Regions from separate parts of the Homo sapiens genome. Here region 2 is linked to region 1. The links come from fine-mapping of genetic effects on gene expression. A gene starts in region 1. The other region holds a variant in brackets. All regions are shown on one strand. Distances are from middle to middle. Region 1 holds the start of CSF2RB (colony stimulating factor 2 receptor subunit beta). Region 2 has its middle 7.8 kb from the start of LL22NC01-81G9.3.

Region 1 (5,382 bases):
TCCCAAGTAGCTGGGATTACAGGTGCACACCACCAAACCCGGCTAATTTTTCGTATTTTTAGTAGACATGGGGTTTCACCGTGTTGGCCAGGCTGGTCTTGAACGTCCAACTTCAAGGGATCTGCCTGCCTCAGCCTCCCAAAGTGCTGGGATTATAGGCATGAGCCACTGTGCCTGGCCTTGGCAAACTGATTCTAAATTATAACAAACCAGAGATGAGAGACTTGCTCCATTCGTTAGAAAAATAATAAGGAATGTAGTGACAGCCAAATGGAAGAGAAAACAATAAAGAAAATAACGAAGTATGTATAGAAGCCTAGGATGTAATAGGGGCACTTCAAATCATTGAAGAGAGGAGAAATCACACACTCATAATTAGCAATGTTAAGACAATTAGATGGTAATTATTTTTAAAAGTTACTTTACACATTACTCACTTCTCTAAATTCTAGGTGGGCTAAAAATCTCAAAGTCAAAACCAAAATAGTAAAATTATTAAAACTCTTTCTGTAATCTTAGAGGTTTCAAGACACCAAACCAGAAACCATAAAGTAAAAAGAGGTTTACAAGACACCTGTGATCTTAGAGGTTTACAAGACACCAAAATCAGAAACCATAAAGTAAAAAGTAATGACAGGTTTGACTTAACAATGAAAACATTTTTATATGACATAAGACATCTTAAACATGGTAAAGAAAAAGATAAGTCATAACCTGGGAGAATATATTTTCAACATATATAAATGGATTATTAATACACGTAATAAATGAGTCACTCCAAAAGTTAAGATGTAAAAGAGAATTCAACAGGAGATGAACAAAAATTTCTCCACATTCATCATAAATGAAATCCAAAAGGCCAATCCACATATAGAAAATGTACAACTTCACCCATAATCAGGGAAAGAAAAAAATCACGCGACATTGAGAATTTCCATACATAATATTGGACAAAATTAGAAGATTGATAATTTCTCTAAAGGTAAATTGGACCCTTTATGCACTACCTTGGGGACGTCAGCTTAGCTCAGCTACTTTGAGGCTGATTTGACAATACCTATTATAATTTCTAACGCACAACCTCTGCACAGCAATTCTGCATTTAGTAATTTAGGCTACAGAAACACTTTCACAGATGTGGAAAAATTAGAAACAATCTAGGTGTCGATCAACGTGAGATTAGATGAATTGTGGTGTACCCATCCTAATAAATGCCACATATTTCTTAGGGTTACTTAACGAGTTAAATCTGTATGTATTATTGTAGAAATTTGGAAATATTCCAAAATACAATATTAAGTGAAAAAATTAGGAATATATATATATATATATAAATAAAATAATCCCATTTCTGTAAAAAGAAAAACTACCATCCTGGCACAGTGGCTCAAGCCTGTAATCCCAGCATTTTGGGAGGCTGAGACAGGCGGATCATCTGAGGTCAGGAGTTCGAGACCAGCCTGGCCAATATGGTGAAACCCTGTCTCTACTAAAAATACAAAAATTAGCCACGTGTGGTGGCTCATGCCTGTAATCCCGGCTACTCAGGAGGCTGAGGCAGGAGAATCACCTGAACCCGGGAGGCAGAGGTTGCAGTGAGCCAAGATTGCACCACTGCATTCCAGCCTGGGCGACAAGAGTAAAACTCTGTCACAAAAACAAAACAAAACAAAACAAAAAACAAACAGGAAAAGAAAAACTATATGCTTGTATCATGCTTAGAAAATGTTCTGGAAGAATACATGTGGTGAAAAGAATAAGCTATGGAACTAGGGAAAAGAAATTGCTGGGGACTTTGTCTCTTGTGCTACATAATTCTAGATTATTCTAATTTTCATGAAGGTAGGTTTCTGTGTAGTTGCTTGTTTAGCATTAAATACATTCCTTATACAACTCATGAATTATCCTGTGGTGTTGGTATATCTGTATACTGGAACAATATAAATAAAACTGCTGGATGAAAAAAAGAGTGACCAAAAGCTAATAGGAAATGTTTACTCATTATAAAATGATTACAAAGCAGGAAAGATGATAGAAAAAAATTAGAATTGGGCTGTACAAAAATATAACAGCAGGGTTTTTGAAGACTAAAAATTGCACATATGCAGCTTGTCGCTAGCACCTGTCTGACAAGGTCCCAGTGAAACACCTGCCCTTTCATTCTCAGGGCCAGTACACACACCTGCACACACCCTGAAGCAGGCACCCCAGATACCCACCCACCCAGCCAGCATACTTGGGTACAGAACACACACACCTGGGCCCCAACCCAAATCAGCAACCCAAATCAGCAGGGCAGAGTGTCATAACTAAAAAGACAGACAGACAGAGAGAGAGACTGAGAGAGAGAGAGAGAGAGAGAGAGATTGCTGGATAGTGCCTGGTATGTCTCTGGGCAAAGTGCTGGGCTCTTTCTCAAGTTCAAAGTGAGCTTCTCAAGCCACACCGCACCCAGCTCTGGGCCTCAGCGCAGCAAGCTTCCAGGTTTCACCCTCTGCCTCTTAGTCTCTCTGCACTCCTGCATCCCCAGACATCCGCACATGCACATACACACACAGGCACACACACAAATGCACACACGGGCAAACACACGAGCATGCGTTCTCTCTCTTTCTAAACCAAGATGTCAGGGACTATCCATGCTCCCCATTCCACAGATGAGGAGACAGAAGCCCAGGGTGGACAGGGGGTGCTCTCACTACCACCAGCATCTTAGTGACAAAGCGAAGACAGACTATAGGTGCCTGACTCCCAGGCCTGAGCTCTCTTCACCCCACTAGGCGTCCTTCCCACCAGGACCAACCAGATCCCGCTAGCGAGGCTGAGTCCTCCCCAGAGCTCTCCTACAACACCCAAGCAGCTTGGCACCCCTGGCTGCCTCCCCATCCACTGGCCGCCCTAGGAGTCTGGGCTCAGGTCATCCTAAGAGGCCAAGCCCTAACTCCTCCAAGTCCCCAGGGCACAGCTACCCACAGGACGCCCCCCAGGCTCCCCCTGTCCTTTTTCATCCTGGACTCCCCACATTCCCCCCTGCTCTGACCCCACCCCTCAGCCCTGCTCCTGGACGCCGGGCCATACCTCTGTGTGGTGGGAGAGACCAGTCTTCTTCTGGAGCCTCTAGGCAGAGTGAGCCTCCCACGTTTCCTATTTATGTTGATGTCATCAGGAAACAGAGAAGCAGAAAGAGGAAGCAGTGCCGGCCCAGGCCTACTTTGCTAATAGTGCACGTGACTTTTCTTACTTCCAGAAAGCCTCCTACTCCAATTTACCTTCCTATAAACTCCTAGGCCTCCTTCAAGCCTCAGCTGACGCAGGGCCTCCTCCATGCAGCCTTCCCTGACTGCTTGATGGGGATGCAGGTGGAAGTGGCTGCAATAACCATAGCTGGTTTGAGCCCAGAGCCAGACAGATCTGTGTTGGACTTCCAAGTCCACTGCTTCTTAAAGCGTGTCCTTGTGCAAATCATCTGCGTGTTACTTCCCCAAGCCTCGGGACATCCATCTGTCTGTTACTTTTGCAGAAGCATCTACAAACCTGGAAGGACTGTTGAGGGAATCCAGTGAGATTCTGTGCAGGAAGACCTTAGCTCAGAGCTGGCCACAGGAGAACCCCCTACAAGTGGTAGCTGGTGGCATGTTGATTTCCCCGATGTCCTCTTTGCCCTGCCGCCCCACCCCACCATGTGTCATATGGTCATGTGTGTTCATGGCTGTCTTTCTTCTGACACTATCTTCAGTGCTGGCTTGTGTCCGGCTTGCACTTCCCTCCCAAATACCTAGCACATGGCCTGGTACAGAGGAGAAATTGCACCTTTGACTGTGTGCAAATGAATAGATGAATGAATGAATGAATGAATGAATGAATGAATGAATGAGTGGCTCCCTGAGCACAGCAGGGCCAGCAGAATTAAGGTCAGGTGAGTGAGGCAGTCTCTCGTGCTCAAAATTTAAACAGGCATTTAAAAATTCAGTAATTGTTGTAAGTAATATTTTAATGCAATATGGTTTAAAAAAATCCCAACTGATGCAGAAACTATTCACGGTGAACCAAATATGAAAAGTTTGAATAAAGACAAGATGAATCACAGTGCCAAGACACAACAAAACGCAGTCATATTTCTCCTACATGGGGCTGCCTCCCAGGAGAAAGGGCAGCAGGCAGGAATGAGGGGAATGGAGGGCAAGAATGAGGGGAATGGAGGAAATGGAGGGGCAGGAACCTGCCTCGAAGCCACTGGAATTCTGGCCTGATTGTTGTTCTTTGCTTTCCTCCTACCAGGAAGGGCAGGGTTGGCCAGGAAGAGCTGGCAGGGCCTCACCCTAGCAGAGAAAGCCCAGGGTAGAGGAAGGCATGTGTGGTTCTCTCAGGCACTCCGGTCAGTGTGAGGTCCCTGCCTGGCATGGAAAAACCCTGCAGGGGCTTCTCCAGGGCTGGAGAGGATGGAATTAAAGTGACGTCCCGGGCTCTCTTTTCTCCCAGGTGTCCCCACTCTGCCTGTCTTTGCTGAGGTCCTCTGTGGGACTGGGAGGCTGCGGGCCTGGATGCCCTCAGGAGCACAGAGGATGCTGTCTGGTGGAGAAACGAAGAACCCGAGACTCTGAGTCAAAATCACTCCGGACACCAGACCCAAAATGTGAAGGAGCTTTAGGAACACCTCAGCCAATTCACTTGACTGACCCTTTCCTTTTAAAAGTCATCATAGAGCAGCAGGGGATAAAAATCTACATTTGAATGAGTCTAACAGAGTTCTCTCAATAAGTATTAAAAGTTCTAAGCGAGAAGAATCACACCGTCAGGAATTCATTGAATGTTTTCGTTTGTTTGTTTGTTTTTTCCTTCAGTGGTATGTAAAATACCGTGTCTTGCAATTGACGATCTTTTAGAGACTAAGAAACCCAAGAAAATGTTGGCAAGAACGTAGTACTCATAATGACCAGGGCTTGAGCATTTACGCTGTGAGCAGACCTTCGGCTGGGGGCTTCTCCATCTCTTCCCAATAACCTTTATGTAGCTGTTACTGTCTTCACCTTACAGATGAAGAAATTGAGGCATGAAAAGGAAGATAACTTGTTGAAAGTAGTAACTCGTATATGTTAACATTGCATTTTTTTCCATTTCCATTTTTATTCTGAAACTATTTCAAAATACAGAGCGTTAAAGGAATGATACAAAGAACTCTCACATACCCTTCATGTGGAAACCCCCTTTGAGTTTCGCTAAGCTTCTCAATAATGGTTTTGTAACAAGAAAATCCATCCGGGACTTTGCATTCTCTCTAAATGCATGGCTCTTAGTTGCCATGTCTTTCGGGCCTCCAGTTTGAAACAGATGCCTTGTTTTTTCCTCGACATCTCGAAGACTGCAGGTTGGTTGTTTTGAATA
Region 2 (5,382 bases), 43 kb before region 1:
TTCCACATACCACATACATTTCTGCATTGCACACACATTGCAGCCTGGCCGGGGGTACTGAGCTCTTGCCACTCAGGGAGCTGGGAGGCTGAGAGGCATCTTCCTCACCGAGGGAAGGGACCAGCAGTGTGAGTCTCTCTGCACTCTCTTGGTGGGTGGTGAGGGTAGACATTTCCTTGCGGCAATAAGATGCAGCTTCCTGAGCTCCAGGCAGCAGAAATCCCCCGCAGACCCTGTGCCGGGTCAGTTTTCCCAGGTCCTAATGTTTCAGGGCATGGCTGTGGGAGGAGGGCACGAAGGATGAGTCCAGCACCAGCAATCCTCTGAGAAGCATCCTCCTACTTCCACTCTGTGCACATCTCAGACTGAGCTCCTCCTGGCCAGCCGTGGGTCTGGTGCCTCTCTGCATTCCCAGTGTGGTGAAGGGGTTCAAGGAAGCCAAGTGGGACCATCCAAGACAGAAAGAATGCTGGGGACAGGACATTAGCTCAGACCCTTTATGTCCCCTGAGTACCCTCTCCATGCCAGCACCGTGATTTCACACACATGCAGGGGTGCCAAAGAGAGCTCAGGGTCCCCAGGGCGCCCCAGGCATTCCCTGAACACCCTCCAATCCTCCACTCCAGGAAAGACTTTCCCCACCAGGGAAGGGCATCCTACACTGTTCCCAGCCAGGTCCCCTTCCTGGCAGGCAGTAATTCAAGAATCATCAAGGCAGAATGTCAGTGGTTCCCACCATTCCCTCTCCTCCTCCCTGACCTTCTCCCCAACACAGGAAAAAGACAGGAAGAAAAGGTAGACACCAATCTCTGAATTCTAAACATCAGGACTCAATGTGCCCATCTCTGTGGCTTACACAGGGCACCCAGTCTTTATGTCACCAAGTGAGTTTCCTCAGTCTGTGTGCACAGCCTCATACCTGGCTGGATAGAACCAGAGATGCAAAGTAGAAAAGCATAGGCTCTGGAGCTTCTATCCTCAAGAAGTTGCTCATCTATCCATCCATCCATCCACTCATCCATCCATCCATCCATCCATCCATCCATCCATCCATCCACCCATCCATCCACCCACTCATCCATCCATCCATCCCTCCATCCATCCATCCACCCACCCACTCATCCATCCATCCATCCATGCATTCATTCCAATACCTTCCAATACCCAAATTTTCCAACACACAATTTCAAGTGCTAACTCTGTGCCAGGACATGTGCAAATAACCAGGGAGAGAGATATGAATCAGGTGTGTTTGTGGGGGGTTGGGGGTGGGCATGAACACTGAGCACTCCAGGACTGTATGGGAAGAAGGGACAGGGCAAAATAGGAACCAAGGAAAATACAAGTGATTTAGCTAACTCCGATCATCGGTTTCCATGTGACAGGCATTATTTCACTTGGTTCCTTCAAAATCATTTTGAGGTTTGTAGATGACCATCTCCAAGTAACAGATGACAGTTTTGGGGCTTGGAGAAGTAACATGCAGATAATTTGCACAAGGTCTCACTCTTAGCAATACTAGAGGTGGGAGTCCAACCCGGGTCTGTCTGGCTCTGGGCTCACACCAGCTGTGGTTATTGGAGCCACTCCCATCTGTATCCCCATGAGGAGTCAGGGAAGGCTGCATGGAGGAGGCCCTGCGTTAGCTGAGGCTTGAATGATGAATGGGAGTTTATAGTAATATTTTTCAGATTTATTCTGTGTTTAATTTAGATAATTTCAATTACTATATTTTCAAATTCACTAATATTAAGCCAATTCAATGACATTTTCTTTTCATATGTTGTACTTTTATCTGTGGCAGTTTTATTTGTTTTTATTTTGACATCTTCCACTTCTGTTATGTTCATGTTTTTGAAAAATTATTCGGCCTATTCATAATAACTGTTTCAAAGTCCTTGTCTGCCAGTTCCATAATGAGCTGCATCATTTTGGGGTTCTATCTTTGACGGATTTTTCTCTTGTTATGAGTTACATTTTCTTCCTTCTTTCTACATGTAGTAATTTTTTTTTTTTTTTTAGATGGGGTCTCACTGTCATCCAGGTTGGAGTGCAGGGGCACGATTTCAGCTCACTGCAACCTCCACCTGCCAGGCCCAAGTGATCCTCCCACCTCAGCCTCCCGAGTTGCTGGGACTACAGGTGCACACCACCATGCCTAGCTAATTTTAAATTTTATTTTATTTTTTGCAGAGACAAGGTCTCACCATGTTGTGCAGGCTGGTCTCAGACTCCTGGGCTCAAGCAATCCTCCCGCCTCGGCCTTCCAAAGTGCTGGGATTACAGGTGTGAGCCATTGCACCTGGCCTACATCTGGTAATTTTTGATTGGATGCTGAGCATTGTTTATTTTATGTTGGTGACTGCTGCATTGTATTGTCTTTCTTCAAAAAGTGTTGGACTTTATTCTGATGAGTCATTAAGTTACTTGCAGATCAGTGACATAGTTTGGATATTTGTCCCCACCCAAGTCTCATATTGAAATGTAATCCCCAATCTTGGAGGTGGGGCCTGGTGGGAGGTGTTTGGATCATGGTCGGGGGGATACCTCCTGAATGGCTTGGACCATCCCCTTGGTGATGAGTGAGCTCTTGCTCTGAGTTCACAGGAGATCCAGTCATTTAAAAGAGTGTGGCACCAGCCAGGCATGGTGGCTCATGCCTGTAATCCCAGCACTTTGGGAGGCGGAGGCAGGCAGATCATCTGAGGCTAGGAGTTTGAGACCAGCCTGGCCAACATGGTGAAACCCCGTCTCTACTGAAAATAGAAATATTAGCCAGGTGTGGTGGTGTGCGCCTGTAATCCCAGCTACTTGGGAGGCTGAGGCAGGAGAATAGCTTGAACCAGGGAGGTGGATGTTGCAGTGAGCTGAGATCGTGCCACTGCACTCCAACCTGGCAACAGAGCGAGACTCCGTCTCAAAAATAATAATAAAAACATAAAAAAAAA[C/AC]TAAAATAAATGTGTGTGGCAGCTGCCTCTGCACTAGTGCTCTCTCTCTCTCTCTCTCTCTCTCTCTCTCACTTGTACCAGCTTTCACTGTGTGACGTGCCTTCTCTCTTCACCTTCTGCCATGATTGTAAGCTTCCTGAGGCCTCCCCAAGAAACGAAGCAGATGCCGGTGCCATGCTTCCTGTACAGCCTGCAGAGCTGTAAGCTAATTAAACCTCTTTTCTTTATAAATTACCCAGTCTAAGGCATTCATTGATTTACAGCAATATGAGAATGACCTAATATGGAAAATATCCTACTCTCAGTGCCAATTTTCTGTATTAGGTCATTTTCATGCTGTCATAAAGAAACACCCAGGACCAGGTAATTTATAAAGAAAAGAGGTTTAATTGGCTCACAGTTCTGCAGGCTGTACAGGAAGCATGGTGCTGGCATCTGCTCAGCTTTTGGGGAGGCCTCAGGAAGCTTCCAATTGTGGCAGAAGGTGAAGGGAGAGCAGGCACGTCACAATGAAAGCAGGAACGAGAGAAAGAGAGAGAGAGATCAGCGTAGGGGTAGGTACCACACACTTTTAAATGACCAGATCTCCTGTGAACTCAGAGTGAGAGCTCACTCATCCCCAAGGGGATGGCCCAAGCCATTCACGAGGGATCCCCCAACCATGATCCAAACACCTCCACCAGGCCCCACCCCCAACATCGGGGATTACATTTCAACATGAGATTTGGATGGGGACAAAAATCCAAACCATATCAATCAGTTTGATCTTTTAAGGTTTGTTTTTAAGCTTCCTTAGAGGACTTTTATTATTATTATTATTATTATTATTATTATTATTATTATTGAGATGGAGTCTTACTTTGTTGCCCAGGCTGGAGCGCAGTGGTGCAATCTCTGCTTACTGCAATCTCCGCCTCCTGGATTCATGCAATTCTCCTGCCTCAGTCTCCCAAATAGCTGGGATTAGAGGCACCTGCCACCACGCCTAGCTAATTTTTGTATTTTTAGTAGAGATGGGGTTTCACCACGTTGGCCAGGCTGGTCTCGAACTCCTGACCTCAAGTGATCCACCCGCCTTGACCTCTCAAAGTGCTGGGATTACAGGCATGAGCCACCATGCTGGCCTAGAGCAGTTTTAGAATGGCCCTCTCCTGGGCTGGTTTAGTGCTGGCACTAAGGTGTTTTTCTTCTTGGTTCTCTACTGAATGTGTGAGGTGTTCAGTAAGAATTCCTATTCTGGCTTGTTGGAACTTGAACATCTCCCAGACCTTGGTGAGTTCTGGAAATTGTTCAGATACATCTCTCTGTGTACTATTTACACAGTCTAGTGGAGCTCCACCCCACACATGCATGGTTTAGTGTGCAGCAGTACATGCAAGAGGATCTCTGTGTAGATTTGCTGGGTCTCTTTCTCTGTGCAGCTCTTTCTTCTCTTGTTTTCTACACCAAATTCCAGCTTCTTTTGCCTCTTCAGACTCAGACCCCTATCGCCCAACACAGCAAGACTGCCATGGTCATGTTGGAGTTCTTTTACCTACGTCACAGTCAAGAAAGTGGTAGAAAGGTAGAAAAAGGTAGGCACGGTGGTTTATGCTTGTAATTCCAGCACTTTGGGAGGCCGAGGTGGGAGGATCACCTGAGGTCAGGAGTTCATGACTAGCCTGACCAACATGAAGAAACCCCCGTCTCAACTAAAAATACAAAATTAGTTGGGTGTGGTGGCGAGTGCCTGTAATTCCAGTTACTCGGGAAGCTGAGGCTGGAGAATCACTTGAACCCGGGAGGCGGAGGTTGCGGTGAGCCGAGATCACGCCGCTGCACTCCAGCCTGGACAACAAGAGCGAAACTCCCTCTCAGAAAAAAAAAAAAAAAAAGAAAAAGAAAAGAAAGGTAGGATGATCATAGGACCTACCGTGTTTGTTTTCACTCTCTGAGCGATCATATAGAAGGACTCCTCTTTTCTAACAGCTGAAAACAGATTTTTAATATCGTTTGTCCAGTTTTATACTTCTAAAGTAGAAGGCTATACCTGGTCCTAGTTACTCCATTATGGCCAGAAGCAGAAGCCTCTTCTCCCTCTGCCCATGCCTGTCTTTTGCCCCTCCTCCTCCACTTGGAGCCATTTGGCCCATTTGGGTGTTGACTTTGATGCAAGTCAGGGGTGCCTGCATTGGCGTCTGTGCATGTGGTTGTGGGTGTGTGTGTTTGTATAGTGCCTGGGTATACGTGAGTCCTTAAGGTGGAAGTGGGGCATGGGAATGGGGTGCAGGGGAAGTGGGCTGTGGGAATGGGGTCCAGTGGAAGTGGGGTGTAGGAATGGGGTGCAGGGGAAGTGGGGGATGGGAATGGGGTGCAGGGGAAGTGGGGCATGGGAATGGGGTGCAGGGGAAGTAGAGGTGTGACGGAAGTGGAGAGGTGTGAAATAGCTTCTTGG

What was found. PIP is the estimated chance that this variant, and not a neighbour inherited with it, causes the effect.
Region 2: its variant is the best candidate, but not a certain one, in a credible set for the expression of CSF2RB in whole blood (INTERVAL, PIP 0.52).

Annotation. Positions count from the first base shown.
Region 1 is chr22:36,911,374-36,916,755 of GRCh38, reverse strand. CSF2RB (colony stimulating factor 2 receptor subunit beta) reads right to left here and starts at 3,128. Exons shown (of 14, transcript NM_000395.3): 1 at 3,079-3,128. RefSeq lists an enhancer at 4,594-5,295.
Region 2 is chr22:36,954,788-36,960,169 of GRCh38, reverse strand. No RefSeq gene overlaps it. Among named protein-coding and RNA genes, the nearest start is that of LL22NC01-81G9.3, 7.8 kb to the left of the region's middle. The variant C/AC (reference allele first, on the strand shown) is at 2,949.